Linked DNA regions of Homo sapiens. The protein of the gene in region 1 purifies or fractionates together with the protein of each later gene. This does not show direct contact. Each region holds a gene or a part of one and is shown in the gene's direction. Other genes may lie near its edges. The genes, in order: GUCA1B and LYPLA1.

What was found.
Region 2: the proteins of GUCA1B (region 1) and LYPLA1 purify together in Homo sapiens (affinity purification with mass spectrometry; one large-scale study listed by BioGRID and IntAct). This does not show direct contact.

The regions. Positions count from the first base shown.
Region 1 is NC_000006.12:42,184,773-42,188,593, reverse strand, and holds part of GUCA1B (guanylyl cyclase-activating protein 2), read left to right. Parts: coding exon 1-12; intron 13-2,796; coding exon 2,797-2,914; intron 2,915-3,651; coding exon 3,652-3,779; 3' UTR 3,780-3,821. UniProt on the Homo sapiens protein: Stimulates two retinal guanylyl cyclases (GCs) GUCY2D and GUCY2F when free calcium ions concentration is low, and inhibits GUCY2D and GUCY2F when free calcium ions concentration is elevated.
Region 2 is NC_000008.11:54,049,873-54,053,693, reverse strand, and holds part of LYPLA1 (acyl-protein thioesterase 1), read left to right. Parts: intron 1-937; coding exon 938-1,039; intron 1,040-2,505; coding exon 2,506-2,682; intron 2,683-2,917; exon of another isoform or gene 2,918-3,821. Other genes in the region: LYPLA1-TCEA1 readthrough, read left to right, coding at 938-1,039, 2,506-2,682. UniProt on the Homo sapiens protein: Acts as an acyl-protein thioesterase. Hydrolyzes fatty acids from S-acylated cysteine residues in proteins such as trimeric G alpha proteins or HRAS.

The DNA.
Region 1 (3,821 bases):
AACATTGTGGAGGTTAGTGTCTCTGCCCATGGGCCAGCAGCCTGGGCACTAGAGCACTGCTGGAGCTCTGAAGGTTGGCCACAAGTGGCCAGCGGGGACTGAAGAAGAGGCCTTGAAATCATTCTGAGTGTGTTTCCTGTGTTCTCATTCTGAGTGTGTAATTTCTAGTGGAATTAAGCTAGAAATCAATCAAAAAAAGATTATTAGAAAATCCCCATCTGTTTGGAAATTAGGCAGTAGACTTCCACATACTCTGTGGAACACACACACACACACACACACACACACACACACACACACGACAAGTATCTTAAATTGAAAAATAATGCAAGCATGACATACTACAACTTGTGGAATGCAGCTAAAGCTGAACCTGCAGAAAAATTTATAGATTTAAAATACACATATTAGAAAATAAGACTTAAAATGCATATATTTTGGAAACAGAAGCTGGGTGCAGTGGCTCATTCCTGTAATCCCAGCACTTTGGGAGGCTGAGGTGGGAGGATTGCTTGAGCCCAGGTGTTCAAGAACAACCTGGAAAACAAAGCGAGACCCCATCTCTACAAAAAAATTAAAAATTAGCCAGGCTTGGAGGTACATGCCTGTAGTCCTAGCTACTTGGGAGACTGAGGTGGGAGGATTGTTTGAGCCAGGAGTTGAAGGCTGCAGTAAGCTATGATCATGCCACTGCATTCCAGCTGGGGCAACAAAGTAAGAACCTGTCTCAAAAAAAAGAAAGAAAAGAAAATATATCTTAGGAAATAATTAGAAATTGCATACTATATTAGAAAATAAGACTTTATATATTAGAAAATCAATGATCTAAGAAACCATCTCAGGAAATTAGAAAAAAGGAAGAGTAAATTAAGGCCAGGCACAGGGACTGACACATGTAACCCCAGCACTTTGGGAGGCTGAGGTGAGTGGATCACTTGAGCCCAGGAGTTCAAGACCAGCCTGGGCAACATAGTAAGACCCCATCTCTACAAAAATTACAAAAAAATTAGCTGGGCGTGGTGGTACGCACCTGTGGTCCCAGCTACTCCAAAGGCTGAGGTGGGAGGATTGCCTGAGCCTGGAAGGTCGAGGCTGCGATGAGCTGTGATTGTGCCACTGCACTCCAGCCTGAGCAACAGAGTGAAACCTTGTCTTTAAAAAAAAAAAAAAAAAAAGTAAAATAAACCCTTGGCCGGGCACGGTGGCCCACGCCTGTAATCCCAGCACTTTGGGAGGCCGAGGCAGGAAGATCACGAGGTCAGGAGATCGAGACCATTCTGGCTAATACAGTGAAACCCTGTCTCTACTAAAAATACAAAAAATTAGCCGGGTGGGGTGGCAGGCACCTATAGTCCCAGCTACTCGGAAGGCTGAGGCAGGAGAATTGCTTGAACCTGGGAGGCGGAGCTTGCAGCAAGCCGAGATTGCACCACTGCACTCCAGCCTGGTGACAGAGCAAGACTCCGTCTCAAAAAAATAAAATAAAATAAATCGAAAGATAGTAGAAGAAAGAAAATAAACAGCAGAAATCAATAAAATAGAAAACACAAATGCATGAGAAAAAGTCAAGAAGATCAGAAGTTATTTCTTTTAAAAGACTAACAATCATTCTCTATTAGCAAGAATGATTAAGGAAGAAAAGAAGTGCCTAGTACATCCCAGACTCTGGCGTGTTCCCTGGGTTAGCCAGACCCGCGCTATGAGGCAGGCATCGTTAGCCCTGTTTCACAGAGCAAGAAGCTGCTTCATAGAGATTCTGTAATCGGCCCAAATTAGTCTACCTAGGAAGTGCTGGGGCTGGATTTAACCCCTCAGTCTCCCAAGACACGTCGATGAGGCCTATTTTATGCTGGGCACTGGGCTGAGCAGTGAGGCCATAGAGGTGCATAAGACGCAGCTTCTGTCCTCAGGGAGCGCCAGCCTGGGAGCTAAGGAGAACCATCATATGTGTCCATCTCTTCCGCATTTACATGGTGCTTTCTTTCTTTCTTTTTTTTTTCTGAGACAGAGCCTCGCTTTGTTGCCCAGGCTGGAATTCAGTGGCGCAATCTCGGCCCACTGCAACCTCTATCTCCCAGGTTCAAGCGATTCTCCTGCCTCAGCCTCCTGAGTAGGTGGGATTACAGGCGCCCACCACCTTGCCCAGCTAATTTTTGTATTTTTAGTAGAGACAGGATTTCATCATGTTGGCCAGGCTGGTCTTGAACTCCTGACTTCAAATGATCCACCCGCCTCGGCCTCCCAAAGTGCTGGGGTTACAGGCATGAGCCACAGCGCCCAGACTACATGGTGCTTTCACAAACATAGTCTCATTGGGAGAGGAAACAGGGCAAAGGAGAAACCTGGGTTTTTCCCTCCAGTCCATGAGGAGGGAACATGTGTATCCCCATCATTCTGTTTTACACATATACAGGCACACTTATATAGATACACTGAATTTTCTTCTCTGCATCTCTATTTCTTCCTGTGTAGAATGCAATTTAGACTGTCATGGTGACTTAAACCTCCCTCATTAGAGGTTTTGGATTTGGGCTTTGCAGCTCACAGTGGAAATGCAAATGGTGTTGGGGTCAGGTGGGGTGTGAGGCCGGGAACTCAGCTGGAATTAGGCCAGTGGGATTCTGAGAGCACCGCCTTAGGACAGGTCAGTTTTGATCTGGATCCAGATTATGTGATCCTAAGACGCACAGCCTGGGAAGCCAGCACTGGGGAAGTGGTGCTGGGGGATGTGGGTCACTGGGGTGAAGGTGGAGCTTTCAGGGTCTCCCGTCAATGCAGCTGAGTTTTCTTTGGCAGGGAATTTACCAGCTGAAGAAAGCCTGCCGGCGAGAGCTACAAACTGAGCAAGGCCAGCTGCTCACACCCGAGGAGGTCGTGGACAGGATCTTCCTCCTGGTGGATGAGAATGGAGATGGTAAGAGGGGCAGAGATGGGGAGAGTGCTGTCCACTCTGCATCATCGCCACTTTCTGGCCGCACGTCCTTGGGCAAGGCCCTCCACCTTCCAACCCTGGGGTCCTCATCTGTGAGAAGGCTGTGGAGAAGATGTCATGAACTAACAAAGGGACTCATGAGCACGTGTTTGTAGGAGTGACTAAAAGTCCTACAGGAGTTGCTGATGGAGGCCAGGCACGCAGAATAGAAAGAATAGGAACTTTGGAGTCAGGCAGGGAGTGATATATTGAGCTTCTCGTCCTAGTCTCAATTTCCTCATCTGGAAAATGGGGATAATAATAGTGGTTGAGAGGAATGAATAGGATAATGTGTTTAAGAGCAGGCATAGGGTAGACCTCCATTCAGGCTGCTTGGGCTTTCCTCCCTGTAGCCCAAAGCCCAGCCTCAGGGCTATGTGGGGAGAGAGCTGGCTTGGAATACACACTTGAGCCCTCCAGCTCTCTCAGCTCCACCCAGCATTTCCGTGGTACCATGCGCAAAAGTAAAACTTCAATTCATCAGCAAAGAAAGCCCCTTAAAGGTGGCAGGAGACTCCTGGAGATTCAGACACCTGACAAGCCGCAAGCTTGAGGTCTGAGACTGCAGGATAGTTGGCATAAGACGTGTAGGCGCATCCTGGGAGCGAGGTCTCTCCTCCTGCCCCCAGACCCAGGTCTCCCCTTCTTCTACATGACCACCTCTCCTCCCCCTTGCTCAGGCCAGCTGTCTCTGAACGAGTTTGTTGAAGGTGCCCGTCGGGACAAGTGGGTGATGAAGATGCTGCAGATGGACATGAATCCCAGCAGCTGGCTCGCTCAGCAGAGACGGAAAAGTGCCATGTTCTGAGGAGTCTGGGGCCCCTCCACGACTCCAGGCTCACCCAGGTTT
Region 2 (3,821 bases), on another chromosome or scaffold:
CAGCTCTTGAATTTACATGTTACAGGTGTAGCCACACAGAGAGTGACTGGTGGTCATCGAATCCCATTTCCACAGTGCCAGGAGAAAACATCACTGCCTGGGATGTGAAAGGCTCTCGTGTACTCATGTGTTGCAGTAACCCATGGGCATGGTCAGAGTGATGGGGCTTCTGGATGCTGGCAGGAGTACAGCTTCCAGAATGTGGGATGTTGTGAGCTGGGTAGGCAGATACTCTGAAGGTGTCTGCTAAATAGTTATTATTATCTTAAATTCTCATTTAGAAAGTAATACCAATTTAAGGGCCAGGCACGGTGGCTCACACCTGTAATCCCAACACTTTGGGAGGCTGAGGCGCGTGGATCACCTGAGGTCGGGAGTTTGAGACCAGCCTAACCAACATGGAGAAACCCCGTCTCTACCAAAAATACAAAATTAGCCGGGTGTGGTGGTGCATGCCTGTAATCCCAGCTACTCGGGAGGCTGAGGCAGGAGAATCGCTTGAACTCAGGAGGCGGAGGTTGTGGTGAGCCAAGATTGCACCATTACTCTCCAGCCTGGGCAACAAGAGTGAAACTCCATCTCAAAAAAAAAAAAAAAAGTAATACCAATTTAAGAGCAGATTGGATTTTATGCCTAAAATTCTGCAAAGGAGAAAATATAAATTCAGAATATTCGTAAGGCATGTTGTAAGTGCAGCAGTTTCCCATGGTACAAACTATGTCTCGTCGGAAAGGAAGTCTGTATGTTCTCTGGTGTAGAGAACCGCATCCTTTAGGACACGGTGGGGTGTGTTTGTATTTCCGATATTTGCCTGATTTGATTTGACACCAGCCACCAAGTTTGATTTTTTTATGGATATCATTAGTAACAAGATATTCCCTAAATTGCTGTGGGCAAGCATGTGTGTTCCATTGACTTTCCCTGCTTGTCTTTTCAGGGAGGAGCTTTATCTTTATATACTGCCCTTACCACACAGCAGAAACTGGCAGGTGTCACTGCACTCAGTTGCTGGCTTCCACTTCGGGCTTCCTTTCCACAGGTAACTTGGTTGATGCACTCAACATGAGATTACTGAGCTAAAGGTAGCTAGTAGATATTGTTGGAGATAAAGTCATCTTATTTTTTTTTATTAATAAACTTTATTTTTTGGAGAAGTTCTAAATTCACAGCAAAACTGAGCAGAAGGTACAGAGTTACTATCTACCTCCTGTCCCCACACATGCACAGCCTCCCCACCATCAGCATCCCCACCTCCACAGCCATGTTTTTGCTGCAGTCAGTAATGCTGCACTGACACATCACCATCACCAAGTCCTCCACTTACAGCACTCATCCTTTTTTAAAAATAATTTTCTTAGACTTTTGTGATGTATTACTAGGCCTTATTTCTGTACGCTATACTGTCTGTATTGTGGAGTACATAGAATGGAATTAGAAAGAAACCTTATTGTCACAAATCTTATATTAGAAGGATTTGATACATTTTAGGATATATATGAAAATTAGGACTTTTTTTAACATATAGAAATCATACTTATTTTTAGACCAGGTGCGGTGGCTCATGCCTGTAATCCCAGCACTTTGGGAGGCTGAGGCGGGTGGATTACCTCAGGTCAGGAGTTCAAGACCAGCCTGGCCAACATGGTGAAACCCCATGGCTACTAAAAATACAGAAATTAGCTGGGCGTCGTGGTGCACACCTATAATCCCAGCTACTCAGGAGGCTGAGGCATGAGAATCACTTGAACCCAGGAGGTGGAAGTTGCAGTGAGCCACGATTGTGCCACTTCACTCCAGCCTGGGTAACAGAGCAAGACTCTGTCTTTGGGGGAAAAAAAAAAAAAAAGATAGCTGAATAAAACAGCAACTCAAAATACTAAAACAACCAACCAAACAAACAAAAAAAAGCTGAAAATATAAAGATGGATTAAAATATAATCTGCTTGGCTGGGTGCAGTGGCTCACGCCTGTAATCCCAGCACTTTCGGAGGCCAAGGCAGGTGGATCACAAGGTCAGGAGATTGAGACCATCCTGGGTAACACAGTGAAACCCTGTCTCTACTAAAAAATACAAAAAAATTAGCTGGGCGTGGTGGCACGTGCCTGTAATCCCAGCTACTTGGGAGGCTGAGGCAGGAGAATTGCTTGAACCTGGGAGGCAGAGGTTGCAGTGAGCTGAGATCACGCCACTGCACTCCAGCCTGGGCAACAGAGCAAGACTCCGTCTCAAAAAAACTAAACGAAACAAAAAAATGTATATATAATCTGCTTCAAGGAACTCATTCACTGGGAAGATATATATTATAATATGAGGCAAGGTGATCATACATCCTATAGAAGTCAAAGGGATGTGGTGAGTATATGGATGAAGGAATTTTATTTTTTTGGCCAAATGTAACTTCTAATATGTTATATATATGCATATTTATGTACAATTTTAAATGCCTGGCATAGTGTCCTATACTTTTACAAAAATAAAACTATTTCTTCTTTTGCTTTTTGCAGGGTCCTATCGGTGGTGCTAATAGAGATATTTCTATTCTCCAGTGCCACGGGGATTGTGACCCTTTGGTTCCCCTGATGTTTGGTTCTCTTACGGTGGAAAAACTAAAAACATTGGTGAATCCAGCCAATGTGACCTTTAAAACCTATGAAGGTATGATGCACAGTTCGTGTCAACAGGTAGGTGTCTAGAAGCAGTGATCAGCGCCATATTTGTAACTTTTTTCATGTGATATTTTCAAGAAAAGTAACATTTGAATGCTTGGGGATTTAAATGAGTTAATTCATATTGAGTCATAAGTTAGCAGTCATTAGATGAGTGTGTATTCAACTTAATTCAACAAATATTTACTGATTGGCTATTATACACAGCATTGTACATAATTCAAAGATGAATAATAAACATTCCCTTTCATTAAAATTTAAGATAAAATTTAATAGAAAGATGCATGTCTAAGTAACTGTATGGATAGCAGAATGTGATATACATTGTATTAGAAGCTTTAAAAAGTGCCCTTGGAAAATAACAAAAGGTGCCCTGAAAAACTGAGAAGAGATTAATTTTATCTTAGGAGGCACTGAGACCATGATGAAACAGCTAGATTTTGAAAAACGGTGGGATTTGGATAGCAAATGTGCAGAGAAAGAACTATAGGACAGGAAAAGCAAGCCATTCAGTCTTAGGAAAAGCTGGGCATGATAGGACAGAAGACATAGGGAACAGAGACTCTTTGTGCTGAGAAGGGACTTACTAGACTTACTCTCTAGGCAGCAGGAAGCTGTCAGTGTTTTTGGTTGAAGTGAGATGTGATCTGATCTACATTCTAGAGACAGGTGATCCAGCAGGATTTAGAGATTAATTATGTGGGGTGTAGTAACCAAGGAAGTATCAAAAGGGCCTGAGATTTCTAGTTCTGATGCCATCATAAAAAGTAGGTGCAAGAAACAGTTTTAGAGTAAAGGAAGGAGATAATACTGAGTTTAATGTATTGAGATCAATGTGCCCCCACAATATCAAAATAGGATATTGGAAATACTTGTCTGAAGTTCAAGCCTGGAAATGGAGATTTGAAATAATTACTAATATAATTGATCAACGAAGAATTATCTTGAGAAAGCATTATAAGAAAAAAAGCTCAGGGATAGAACTTTGGGGGACACATTACAGTTTAGCCTAATGAGAAAAGGAGTTAGGTGTTGAGAGTATGGGTGGAGAGAATTTCAGAGTGGGAAGGAGATGTGTAATGTGTTCCAGAGAAGGATTAAGGAGAAATAGTTTAGGAAGAAAGTACCCAATATTAAGCCACCTGTGACCTTGG